2 separate regions of the Homo sapiens genome follow, and region 2 is linked to region 1. Evidence: fine-mapped expression QTL. A gene starts in region 1. The other region holds a variant in brackets. All regions are shown on one strand. Distances are from middle to middle.

Region 1 (2,805 bases):
AATATAGCTATTAATGTCAAACAGATTGTCATCTGGGAAAACAAAATGCATCAAAATCAGCTTCGGACAAAACACAGCTCTATGGGAAAACACCAGATTTTTATGTGCAAATGTCTTCAATGTCTGATAGAAATTTTTAAAGAATGAGTTAGCAAAGAATCTGCTCCTCCTCTGCATAATCCAGGACAATGTAATGAAAATAGTTTTCGAGGTAAAGGGCTTTTAGTCACAGCATATTATGATTTTACCAAAGATGCATTTGCCCCACTTTCTAGTAAACATTATAAAGAAACGTCTGGCTTCTAGATTGGGTAGAGGGCTCTATTTAGCCTATCAAGGCACAGACCTGTTATAAACTCTGGGGCGCTTGCCAGAATTTTTTTCCCCAGGAACTCTGAGTAAAGATCGTACCTCGAAAGCAATGTGCGTTGCAAACCACACAGATTTAAGCTCCCACTCTCGCCTCCATAGCTTGGCATCTGCGGCTTTTGGGGTATTCCCCGCCTCCTAAAACTCAGACTAAATCACCACCTCCCACCACCACCATGCCACCATCCTTGAGCAGCTCTCAGGGGCTTAGCACAGAGCGCGTCCGACGCATACCTGCAGCCCTCCAGGTCCCTGCAGGGTGAACCCAGCTCCCAGCCATGCGCGCACCCACAAACGCTCTCCTATTTTCTCCGCTGCAAACTGCCCACAAATTAGTCACCCACCTCACCCCTACTACTTATTCCCCCACGTCCCTGCTGCCTTTTCCCTCTTCCGGGCGGCTTCGTCCCCAACACACCTGTCTACCCCTACGGCTGCCAGACGTCAGGTGCCCACGCTGCACCCTATCCCGCGCCCCCTCAATCCGACTGGCGCTTCCCTGTCCGCCCCGAAGGTCAGTTTGCTCGGAGCACCCCCTGTCCCCCACCCCCGTGCTCACCCGCAGACCTCCTCCCAGCTCCCACCCTCGCGGGCGTCGGGAGAGAAACCAGCACCGTACCTGGCGAGAGCTCGGCGGCCGCTGCGAGCAGCAGGAGAGCCTGGCGGAGCGCTGAGCAGAGCGCCCGGGTCATCGCCACCAGGCGGCCGCGCCGGGGCTGCGAGGCCCCAGAGCAGAGCGAGGCAGCCGGGGCAGCACGGCCCGCTTTGAAGTTCCCGGGCCGCGGGAGGGGAGCGCGGCACCGACACCCTTTTGAAGTGCGCGGTTGGCTCTAGTCAGTGTGGGCGCCCCCCTCCCCGGCCGCCCCCATCCCACGCCCCCTGCGGCTGGCGGTGCGCGGCGCTCCTGCCACTGGCCCCGCAGCCGGGCGGGGAGCGGGTGGTGGGGCGGGCGGCAGAGCCCGCCCCTGCCGCGCCTCCGCCCCCTGCGCCCTCTCGCAGCCGCCCGGGCCTGCTGCTGCAGGGCAGGCAGGCAAAGGCGGCCCTGTGCCCGGCAGTGAGATCGCCCAGAGCTGGGGCGAAGAAAGAGGGGGCGTGGGGAAGCAGTGCGGAGCCTCCGGGACTAGATACTCAGGAATGGGGCTTCTCACGGGAGGAAAAGCCCCACTGAGACTTTAGGGAAACTTCAACTACGCGGCGATTGCGCCCAGGTGATCCGCTCTATAACCTCCCGCAGAAGAGCCAGCCTCCTAGCTCTCCTGACGTTTGTTGTCCAGGGTCCTTAAGTCCAACCAGGTTGCGCTGTGAGAGCCCCGCGGGCTTCCTACTGGCTTGTCCCACCCCTGCGTCCTGGCCATTTGTGCCTCTGGGGAAGGGCGCCCTCTCTGTTCATCCCTGGAAATGACCAGTTGTCCGACTGCCTTCTGGACCTATAAGCTTTGGTTTAACAAACTTCATCTCTTCTTGGGTGCCTTTTGGGAACCCTTCCCTCTATGAATGGCGACCAAAGCTGGACCACCTGCGCCAGGTGATGTGGCCATCTACAATGTGTGACCCACGTCTGGTGGTAAAAGACCTCACCTATGGAAGATAATTTCGGCAGCTACAACTTCAGCAATTGAAGAACTAAGGGAACATACACACACACACACACACACACACACACACACACACACACACACGGATTAAGGGAAGGGGAAGAATTGTTTAAAGTAGTATATGAAAAACTTGTTTGAGTATTGTTTAATCCCTAGAGGCTAACTGTCAAACGGGTGCCTGAAAATATAAGGCCTGGATTGTGCCTGAAAATATAAGGACAACGGCAACATTACCAATTTATAGAAATTAAATTCAATTCACCTATGGAGCCTGAACATTAAAGTGAATGGGATTATTTCAATCTGAACAACGCGAAAAAGCAAGAATACAATACTGGTGTTATTACTACTGTTGGGGGTTCCTTGAAAAGTGATAGCGTCATAAAAATTGCTTTAGAGTAAAACATTTCTTGCTTCTTCACCTAGCTCAGGACTAAATTATATGCTAGGTGTTCTAAGTTCTATGAAAGACCTATGGTGAAATGTTGTATGTAATTGACTTTATTATCAAAGGATCACAGTATGGGAGATGAGATGGTTGTTGGACTTTGAGATGTGGGTGGCATCCTGAGGATCTTTTCTGCCACCATCTTATATTCCTAAGCACAAAAAAACTTTGTTCTTGTTTTATCCTGGATCCAAACAAACAAAAAACTGGAGATGTGGGACAAATCTGAGCCCTTTCAGACACCCACAAAACAGATGCTTTTTTAAAAAGGCAAGAAACTGCTAGGACACATTATATTTTGTCTGGTTTGGCTTGCTAATTATTTGATAACTGCACCTTAAATTGTGATCTGCCAATAGATCATGATACCGGGAGCCTAAATAGCAGAATGTA
Region 2 (2,805 bases), 29 kb after region 1:
CCAAAAACAGTGATGCATTTACCTTTGTATCTCCAACAAGGAATGCAGTGTTGGCATATTACATATTCATTGCCTTAATCATTACTTGATGAAAAAATAAGTAAATAAATAAATAAAGCCTTTTAAACCCACTCATAAAACAATGCAGCATGGTGGAGTGGCGGGAACAGCTTCTCTCTGTGAGTCTAGTTTCTTCATCCACAATTTGAGTGGAATAATGCCTATCCTACAAGGTATTGGTAAGGAGTTACTGAAACAACCTGTGCTGACACAGGACTTGGCCCATAGAAGATACTCTGAAGCTATTTGTGGAAATAGAATCATAGATACTTTTAAGTGAGCTAATAGACAAGGAAGGAGCATGAGTTTCACCCATTCACAGAGTTTATTTGGATCAGAACAGCTCGCTACAGAAGGAGGAGGTAAACTTCCCTCCATATGGAGAACATTTATAGATAGCCCCATTCCCTAGATATGTAGACTGCATTTATAACAGTGAAGGATTTTGACAAGAGCAACATGCAACAATCCAGAATTTTAAATCTGTATAATTGCCCCATTCACCCTGTGCTCCTGAGCTATGGGGCGTCAAGTCATTCAAGGGTAGTATGGAATACGGCTAAAATTTAGAATTGCAAATCTCCTTGGGTCAGCATATCCAGCACTTCCCAGCTGAGAGACTACTTCAATGAATCTACATAACCAGCTTCGTATTTCGAGGGCCTGAATATCCACTTTGGAACATTGAAGTCTCTTTTGTTTCTCTTTTTGTCTTTTAGACACAATTTTTATTTTAATTGATTCATTTGAAACTGCAACAGAGATATGGTAAAGTGAAATAAAGAAAATTTTCAAAACCAATCAAAGGTATTATTTATCAGCTATAGAAATGGTTTTAGTAAGGGCAGAAAAAGGTGACATGAAAACCATGGTTTTTAATCCATGGCCATCTCCTGTTACAGTTATGAATTGAGAGTGCATAGAACTATTATCCTCAGCTTCCAAATGATACAAAGTGTACTTTTACGTAAATTAATATGGTAATACATTTAGAGCATGTTTTCCTCTTTAATAAAGGAATCTGAGCCCAAGGTTAGTGAAATAAAAGACTTGAACAAAACAACAGCAACAAAAACAGACAAACAAAACCAACTTCTGTGTCTTCCTCACTGCAACAAAATGTTATAGTGATGGAGCTAATGAGGAGATTTATTAAATTTCCTAGGTGGACATACTGGGTCTGCCCATTTACAAAAGAGTACTCTGTGTCCTTGATTTTAGGTTTTATTTTGTATTATTTTGGAAGGGTAAACAAATCTCCTCCTCTAAAGAGGGA[T/C]ATCATGTGCTGCTGGAGACACTATCTGCCTTACCACGTAACTCACTTACAGAATATTTCACAGCCCTTGCTAGTAATCACATGGAAGCTTTGTTTGATGGCAAACACTATCACACTGTTCCAGGATTCTTACAGGGTTCCAGGAATTGTCCCCAGTGTAATGTCTCAAGAATAATAAAAAAATAGCCTTCTTCTGCATGACTTTTTTTAAAAAGTTAGAGCCACCAAAATAAATTATGAATAGCAAATGACAGCTTTTTAGAAATTCAACCAAGCCTCTCTTACTCAAAGCTCAGAAACAGTGAAGTGGACAGAGAGTGGGGGTATTTTTGTCGTTGCAATAAAATGGAGCACTGTGGTGTGTAATCAAACAGCCGCACCTTCTGACTAGCATCACTAATGCTCCACAGCCACTCCTAGGCTCAAAAAAGAAAAAAAAAACATGCTCAGAGTTGGCCTTCTTGGCAAAGTGCATGGCTGCCTAATGGTGTGATTTGAGGCATACTTAGAGTCCTTCCATCCTCCAAAATATTCACTTTGTCAGTTTCCATAGTCCTAAGATTCCATTACCAAGGCTTTATTTCTTGCAGTTAAGACATATAGCCTGTTAACGTAGTGATACTCCTGAAAACCATTAATGTTAGGCCACCATCCAAACTATTTGCATATCCTAGAAGCAATGTATTCTCAAGAGTGAGTTCTATTGGGGGTTCTCCTCAGTCTCCAAAGATACTTAGATCAGTGTTTCTCCAACATCGACATGCATATGAATCACCCGAGGATCTTATTAAAATACAGATTCTAATTTATTATGTTTGGGGATGGACCTAAGATTTCTGTATTCATAGTAAACTCCTTCAGTCTGATGCTGCTGGTCCACAGACCACACCTGGAGTAGCAAACTCCTAGACTCTTCCCAAGATCTCCTAGATAAGGACTCAAGACCAGGGCTCAGCAAGCTTTTATTATAAGGGGTCAGATAGTAAATATTTTGGTTTTGTAGGCCACAGGGTCTTTCTTGCAACCACTCAGCTCTGCCATTATAGCAAGAATGTATCCATGGACAGTATGAAAATGAATGGATATGCCTGTGTTCCAATAAACTTTATTTACAAAAATAGGCTGCAGGCTAGATTTTGTCCACAGGTCATGGTTTGCTAACCCCTGCTCTACCTATGCCTAATAAAGGTAAAGAAAAATACATTAGGAAGCCAAGAAAGCAATCAGGAAGAAACCTGGCTTTGAATATCTTTACAGAAAATTTGGAATCCCCTTCAAAAGCCAAAATTTTGTGCTCTAGACAGACAAGACATGAAAGGTGGAGGTGCAAGAGCACCAACCACTTACCCTACTTCACAATTTTACACATAACTTGCCTGTGCTCATCTTGGGCTTTCCCTAGGAATGGGAAAGGAACAAAGCAAGTTTATATTCTGTGAGTTCATACTCCAACAACTCGCCTTTTGTTA

Alleles and levels. Alleles are on the strand shown, and positions count from the first base shown. SD is a standard deviation of normalised expression in the study named.
With allele T in place of C in region 2, the expression in sun-exposed skin of the gene that starts at base 1,281 in region 1 is lower (small effect, 0.33 SD a copy in GTEx).

The links. PIP is the estimated chance that this variant, and not a neighbour inherited with it, causes the effect. A credible set is the group of variants that fine-mapping cannot tell apart.
Region 2: its variant is the best candidate, but not a certain one, in a credible set for the expression of ACVR1C in sun-exposed skin (GTEx, PIP 0.83).

What each region holds. Positions count from the first base shown.
Region 1 is chr2:157,627,584-157,630,388 of GRCh38, forward strand. It overlaps ACVR1C (activin A receptor type 1C), which reads right to left and starts at 1,281. Exons shown (of 9, transcript NM_145259.3): 1 at 989-1,281. The coding sequence starts at 1,061. RefSeq lists a silencer at 996-1,225.
Region 2 is chr2:157,656,662-157,659,466 of GRCh38, forward strand. No RefSeq gene overlaps it. Among named protein-coding and RNA genes, the nearest start is that of ACVR1C, 29 kb to the left of the region's middle. The variant T/C (reference allele first, on the strand shown) is at 1,337.